2 linked regions of the Homo sapiens genome follow. The protein of the gene in region 1 interacts with the protein of each later gene in a pairwise test. Each region holds a gene or a part of one and is shown in the gene's direction. Other genes may lie near its edges. The genes, in order: CDK10 and RNF115.

What was found.
Region 2: the proteins of CDK10 (region 1) and RNF115 interact in a two-hybrid assay, tested with the Homo sapiens proteins (one study listed by BioGRID).

Annotation. Positions count from the first base shown.
Region 1 is NC_000016.10:89,689,471-89,693,283, forward strand, and holds part of CDK10 (cyclin-dependent kinase 10), read left to right. Parts: intron 1-1,082; coding exon 1,083-1,154; intron 1,155-1,972; coding exon 1,973-2,075; intron 2,076-2,335; coding exon 2,336-2,417; intron 2,418-2,978; coding exon 2,979-3,046; intron 3,047-3,803; coding exon 3,804-3,813. UniProt on the Homo sapiens protein: Cyclin-dependent kinase that phosphorylates the transcription factor ETS2 (in vitro) and positively controls its proteasomal degradation (in cells).
Region 2 is NC_000001.11:145,817,455-145,821,267, reverse strand, and holds part of RNF115 (E3 ubiquitin-protein ligase RNF115), read left to right. Parts: intron 1-3,813. UniProt on the Homo sapiens protein: E3 ubiquitin-protein ligase that catalyzes the 'Lys-48'- and/or 'Lys-63'-linked polyubiquitination of various substrates and thereby plays a role in a number of signaling pathways including autophagy, innate immunity, cell proliferation and cell death.

The DNA of each region.
Region 1 (3,813 bases):
ATTCCTGATGTAGTTATCACAAACATTGTACCATTTCTGGGTAAACGTAAGCATCCGGTTGCTAATGCCCATAATCCAAACGTGTCACTGCAGAGTACACAGAACTGTTAGAGAAATAAAATACAGAACTTTCCAGAAGCAGCAGGAGCTGGACATGGTGCTCATGTCTATCACCTCAGCAACTCTGGAGGAGTCACCTGAGCCCAGGTGTTTTTTCTTTTTGTTTGTTTTTGAGATGGGTCTTGCTCTATTGCCCAGACTGGAGTGCAGTGGCATGATCATAGCTCACTGCGGCCTCGACCTCCTAGGCTCAAGTGATCCTCCCACCTCAGCCTCCTGAGTATCTGGGACCACAAGAGTACATAAGCACACCCAGCTAATTTTTAAATTTTTGGTAGAGATGGGATCTCCCTATGTTGCCCAGGCTGGTCTTGAACTTCTGGGCTCAAATGATCCTCCTGCCTCGGCCTCCCAAAGCACTGGGATTACAGGTGTGAGCCACTGCACCCGGCCAAGCCTAGGAGTTTGAGGCTGCAGTGAGCTGTGATCACGCCACTGCACCCCAGCCTTGGCAACAGAGTGAGACCCTGTCTCAAAAAAACCAAAAACACCACACACAACTAAAGGTTATAACAGATGTGAAATTGGCGTAGGTCATTCTGGAAGCTGCACACATTAGCAGGATGTTTTGTAGAGCCATCTTCACACAAAATAAGGTTTGCTTTTTTCTGCATAGAGTACCTTATTTGCTTTTAGGACATTACAAGAGAGCACAAAGCAGTGATCTGCATGCTAAGGAGGACATGGAGAGCCTGGAGCCACAGAACTGAGTGGCTGGAGGCCAGGGTCCAGCACAGAGCAAAGTTGGGCACCCCCTGCCCAGTTCAAATGAGGAAACCCTCCGGGGGAACGCGTCTCGGGCTAGGGGCGTTGCACAGAGTGGGGACTGAGTGTCACTGGGCATGAGGTTGTCAGAGGAAAGAACGGGGACCCCTGTGGCTCAGGGAGAGCCTCCCGTTCAGCGCTAGGGAGCCCACGAGGGGCATCGAGATGATGTCATCACCAATGTGTTTCCATTCCAGATCGGGCCCGGGACACCCAGACAGATGAGATTGTCGCACTGAAGAAGGTGCGGATGGACAAGGAGAAGGATGGTGAGCAGGAAATTGGGGTGTTGGGACCTCGCACTGGGAGGAGGCAGAAGGATGTGAGTTACCTGAAGTTTCCTCAGAGCGACTGCACGGTGCTTGTAGCGGGGGCCGGCCTCTGGGAGGGTTCTGGTGTGGCCCAGCACATCACCCCCAGGTCCACACGCAGCCTCAGCTGTCTGCCAGGAGGGCTCTGCAGTCTCCATCCCCTCCTCCCCCTCCTGTCTGGTGAGGCCACCTCACTGCAGGCTCAGCTCTGCTGTCCCCTCCACCCCCAGCACCTGCCTGTGCAGGCAGGGCCCTGCCATGCCCCACATAGATGTCCACGGTGTTTAGAGAGGTGCCGATTCGTATTTGGTCAAGGAAGAGTTAAAAGTGCTTATTGGGCCGGGCATGGTGGCTCATGCCTGTAATCCCAGCACTTTGGGAGGCCGAGGCAGGCGGATCACCTGAGGTCGGCAGTTCAAGACCAGCCTGACCAACATGGAGAAACCCCATCTCTACTAAAAATACAAAATTAGCCAGGCGTGGTGGCACATGCCTGTAATCCCAGCTACTAGGGAGGCTGAGGCAGGAGAATTGCTTGAACCCGGGAGGCAGAGGTTGCGGTGAGCCGAGATGGTGCCATTGCACTCCAGCCTGGGCAACGAGCGAAACTCCGTCTCAAAAAAAAAAAAATGCTTATTGGGGTCGCCCCAATTCTCCCTGAGGTGGGGACACTGCAGCACCTGCTATCAGGTGTTCGTGAAGCCCAAGAGTGGCTGGGGTTGGGGCTTCCCCGCCATCACTGGGGTGGGGCTCGCTGAGGCCACCTCCCTCCCCAGGCATCCCCATCAGCAGCTTGCGGGAGATCACGCTGCTGCTCCGCCTGCGTCATCCGAACATCGTGGAGCTGAAGGAGGTGGTTGTGGGGAACCACCTGGAGAGGTACGTGGTCTCCTGGTCTGCACATTGGGCCCTAGGGAGCATGTGTCTTGGGCTAGAGGTGTTGCACAGAGCGAGGACTGAGTGTCACTGGGCATGAGGTTGTCAGAGAAGAGATGACCCCACCTCACCGCCTGGCTCAGCCCATTGTCTGAGGGGGACACAGGTTGTCCTGCCCATGTCCCCTCCTGCAGCAGGGGAGGCTCCACTTCCACCCCTTAGGAGAAGGCCGGAGAGTGGCATGCATCTTCTGTTTCTTCCAGCATCTTCCTGGTGATGGGTTACTGTGAGCAGGACCTGGCCAGCCTCCTGGAGAATATGCCAACACCCTTCTCGGAGGCTCAGGTGCGTGGCAGAGGGGCCTGGGGTGGGGGAATGGGCTTCATGGGCCCTTGTGGTGCACATTTATAACGAAACAGGGCACTTGGGGACTTGAAGAGCTGCTGCTGCCTCTGCCTCCACCTCCCAGTGTTTCAGCGAGCTTCAGTGAGGTGGAATTCCTGTGGTGGGGGCATCTGCTGGGAGCGGGCAGCCCCAGGGCCGAGAGCCTTATGAGGGCACTGGTTTCCTGGGCTGTTGGGAGCAGGCAGCCCCGGGGCTGAGAGCCTTCTGAGGGCACTGGTTTCCTGGGCTGCTGGGAGCGGGGAGCCCTGGGCGGAGAGCCTTCTGAGGGCACTGGTTTTCTGGGCTGCTGGGAGAGTGCAGCCCCGGGGCCAAGAGCCTTGTGAGGGCACTGGTTTCCTGGGCTGCTGGGAGCGTGCAGCCCCGGGGCCGAGAGCCTTCTGAGGGCACTGGTTTCCTGGGCTATTGGGACTGCTAGTCCTGCTGGCCAGTGTGGGTGTGGCAGGGCCCAGCTGGGCTTCCCTGCAGGCTCACCCTGACTGGTACCTCTGACCCTCTGCACAGGTCAAGTGCATCGTGCTGCAGGTGCTCCGGGGCCTCCAGTATCTGCACAGGAACTTCATTATCCACAGGTGGGTGACAGCTAGGCAGAGTTGGAAGCACAAATTCGGCTGAGGCCTAACTCTGCTGCCCCTGTGGAGTTACTAAAAGCTCAGGGGTTCCCAGCTGCAGCAGCCTGCCCGCTGCTCGCACTCCATTTGTGTTTTTTTCTAAAATAGAGAAGGGGTCTCTCTGTGTTGCCCAGGCTGGTCTCACACACTTGGGCTCAAGTGATCCACCCACCTTGGCCTCCCAAAGTGCTGGGATTACAGGTGGGAGCCACCACACCCAGGCATGCACTCCGATTTTTAAAAGGTCCAAACATCAACAGCATGTAAGAGTTAATGAAAAAAAAAATAATAAAGATACTACGCCGGGCACAGTGGCTCACGCCTGTGATCCCAGCACTTTGGGAGGCCGAGGCAGGCGGATCACGAGGTCAGGAGATCGAGACCATCCTTGTTAACACAGTGAAACCCCATCTCTACTAAAAATACAAAAAAATTAGCCGGGCGTGGTGGCGGGCGCCTGTAGTCCCAGCTACTTGGGAGGCCGAGGCAGGAGAATGGCGTGAACCCGGGAGGCGGAGCTTGCAGTGAGCCGGGATTGCTCCACTGCACTCCAGCCTGGGCGACAGAGTGAGACTCTGTCTCAAAAAAAAAAAAAAAAGATACTAAAAAGCCCAAAGCTGAGGAAACGTGCAGGAAGTCTACGGGCATTGGTGCCGTGGGGGAGCTCTCAGCCCCTGTGGCCCTCTGGGAGCCACCTGCCACTGTTTTTCCATCACAGGGACCTGAAG
Region 2 (3,813 bases), on another chromosome or scaffold:
TAACACAATTGAGTATAACCGGATTCTTCCTAAATATATCCAAGGTTCTCTGCTGAGTGTCCTGGAGGTGATAGGGAGTGATATGTGGCTCCTGCCCTTAAGGATCTTACAGCTTTTGGGGAAAGACAAGGCAAACATAGAAAAAGTAACAGCATAAAGGGAATGAGGATATGTGCTTTAGGATTCAGAGAGGGGAATTTCATAGCATTGGTGTGGCCAGTGGGATTTAAATTGAGTTTTGAGGGATGGGTACATTTCAGATTGAGAATTCCAAAGACTGTGAGGTAGCAAAAGGAAGAGGGAGTTGATGAAGAAGGGAGAAATATTTAATAAATCATGTTTTTTTCACAACTAAAAGTTGTATACTATATTTTTTATAGTGTTCAGCATGATTTGATATATGTATACACTGAATGGTTAAATCAAGCTATTTAACATGCATTACCTCACATACTTATTTTTGCGTGGTGAGAACACTTAAAATCTGTCTTAGCAATTTTCAAATATACAGTATATTCCCTTTTTCTTTTTTTGAGACTGAGTCTCGCTCTGTCACCAGGCTGGAGTGCAGTGGTGCGATCTCGGTTCACTACAACCTCCACCTCCTGGGTTCAAGCAGTTCTCCTGCCTCGGCCTCCCAAGTAGTGGGGACTACAGGCACGTGCCACCATGCCCAGCTAATTTTTGTATTTTTAGTAGAGACGGGGTTTCACCATGTTGGCCAGGATGGTCTCCATCTCGACCTTGTGATATGCCCACCTTGGCCTCCCAAAGTGGTGGGATTACAGGTGTGAGCCACTGCACCCGGCCTCTTTTTTTCTTTTTAAATAGAGACAGAATTTATTCTGTCTTGTTGCCCAGGCTGTTCTTGAATTTGTGGGCTCAATGTGTCCTCCCACTATATCCTCCTGAGTAGTAGTAGATAGGTGTGTTCCACCATGCCTGGCTAATTTTTTTTTCTTTTTTGTAGAGATGGGATTTTGCCATGTTGCCCCGGCTGGTCTCAAATTTCTGGGCTTAAGCAATCTGCCTGCCTCAGCCTCCCAAAGTGCTGGGGTTACAGGCATGAGCTATTGCGGCTGGCCTGATATGTGGTATTTGTTTTTAATTCTGTTTATGTGATGAATCACATTTATTGATTTGCCTATGTTGAACTAACCTTGCATCCCAGGAGTAAAGACTACTTGATTGTGGTAGATTAGCTTTTAATTTTTATTTATTTATTTTTTTGAGATGGAGTCTTGCTCTTTAGCCCAGGCTGGAGTGCAGTGGAACGAGCTCAGCTCACTGCAACCTCTGCCTCCTGGGTTCAAGCGATTCTCGTGCCTCAGCCTCCCAGATACCTGGGATTACAGGTTTGCACCACTAGACCTGGCTAATTTTTGTATTTTTGGTAGAGATGGGGTTTCCCCGTGTTGGCCGGGTTGGCTTTGAAATCCTGACCTCAAGTGATCTGCCTGCCTTGGCCCCCCAAAGTGCTGAGATTACAGGTGTGAGCCACCACACTGGCCTGCATTAGCTTTTTAATGTGCTGCTGGTTCAGTTTGTTAGTATTTTATTTAGAATTTTTGTGTCTGTGTTCATTAGGGATATTGGCCCGGAGTTTTCTTTTTTCATTGTGTCTTTGCCAGGTTTTGGTATCAGAATGCTGCTGGCCTCATGGAATGGGTTAGGGAAGAGTCCCTCCTCGATTTTTTGGAATAATTTCAGTAGGATTGGTACAAGCTCTTCTTCGTGTCTGGTGGGGTTTGGCTGTGAGTCCGTCTGGTCCAGGGCCTTTTCTGATTGGTAAGTTTTTTATTTTTCATTATTTTTTGAGACAGGGTCTCACTGTGTCGCCCATACTGGAGTTCAGTGGCATGATCACGGCTCACTGCTGCAGCCTCGACTTCCCAGACTCAGGTGATCCTCCCACCTTAGCCTCCTGAGTAGCTGGACCTACGGGTATGTGCTACCACACCTGGCTGTTTTTTTTTTTTTTTTTTTTTTTTTTTTTGAGAGATAAGGTTTCGTCATGTTGCCCAGCCTGGTCTTGAACTCCTAGGCTCAAGCGATCCGCCTGCCTTTGCCTCCCAAAGTGCTGGGATTGTAGGCATGAGCCATGGCCCTGGCCAGGTTTTTTATTACTGATTCAATTTTGGAACTCGTCATTGGTCTGTTCAGAATTTCAGTTTCTTCCTGGTTCAGTCTTGTGAGGTTGTATGTTTCCAGGAATTTATCTGGAATTTTAGGTTTTCTAGTTTGTGTGCATAAAGGTGTTTGTAATAGTCTCTGAGGGTTCTTTGTATTTCTGTGGGATTGGTGGTAATGTCAGTTTTGTCATTTCTGATGGTGTTTATTTAGATCGTCTCTCTTTTTTTCTTTATTAATCTAGCTAGTGGTCTATCAATTTTATTTTTTGAAAGAACCAACTTTTGGTTTCGTTTATCATTTATTTGTATGGATTTTCGCATCTCAATTTCATTCAGTTCAGCACTGATTTTGGTTATTTCTTCTGCTGGCTTTGGGGTTGGTTTGTTCTTGTTTTTCTAGTTTCTCTAGGTGTGATGTTAGGTTGTTAATTTGAGATCTTTCTAGCTTTTTGATGGAAGTGTTTAGTGCTATAAACTTTCCTCTTAATACTGCTTTAACTGTATCCTAGTGATTCTGGTATGCTGTATCTTTGTTTTCATTAGTTTCAAAGAACTTTCTGATTTCTCCCTTAATTTCATTTTTTACTGAAAAGTCATTCAGGAACAAGTTGTCTCATTTCCATGTAATTGTATAGTTTTGAGAGACCTTTTTAGTATTGATTTCTATTTTAATTGCACTATAATCCGAGAGTGTGGTTGGTATGATTTTGGTTTTTTTGCCTACGCACTTCTCAAAAGAAGACATATATGCAGCCCAATAAGCATATGAAAAAATGCTCAGGATTACTAATCGTCAGAGAAATGCAAACCAAAACCACAGCGAGATACCATCTCACACCAGTCAGAATAGCTATTATTAGAAAGTTAAAGAATAACAGTTGTTGGCAAGGTTGTGGAGAAAAGGGAATGCCTATACACTGCCGGTGAGAATGTAAATTAGTTCAGCCACTGTGGAAGGCAGTTTGATTTCCCAAAGAACTTAAAACGGAACTACCATTCTGCCCAGCAATCCATTACTGGGTATATACCCAGAGGAATATAAATCGTTTTACCAAAAAGACACATGCACTTGTATGTTTATTGTGGCACTGTTCACAAGAGCAAAGACATGGAATCAACCTAGATGCCCATCAGTGGTGGACTTAATAAAGAAAATATGGTACATATACATCATGGGATACTATACAGCTATTTAAAAAAAACAAAACCGAAATCATGTCCTTTGCAGCAACATGGATGCAGCTGGAGGTCATTATCCTAAGTGAATTAAAGCAGGAACAGAAAGCCAAGTACCACGTGTTCTCACTTAAAAGTGGGAGCTAAACATTGAGTACACATGGGCATAAACATGGACACGAGGGCTTACTTGAGGTGGTGAGGGTAAGAGGAGGATGAGGGTCAAAAAACTGCCTATCTTGTACTATGGTCAGTTGCTGGGTGACGAAATAATCAGTACACCAAATTCCAGTGACACAGTTTGTCCGTGTAACAAATGTACATATGTGCCCCCAAACCTAAAATCAAAAAAAATATGTGTAGAAAACAAAGAGCAAAATGAAGGACCTAAAACCTAAAAACCATTTATAGTCAATATATAAAAAGGCTTAATACCCCAGTTAAAATCAGATATGGATAAATTTTATAAAAACAAAGTAAACAAAGAGGGTACTGACTCTTGTGA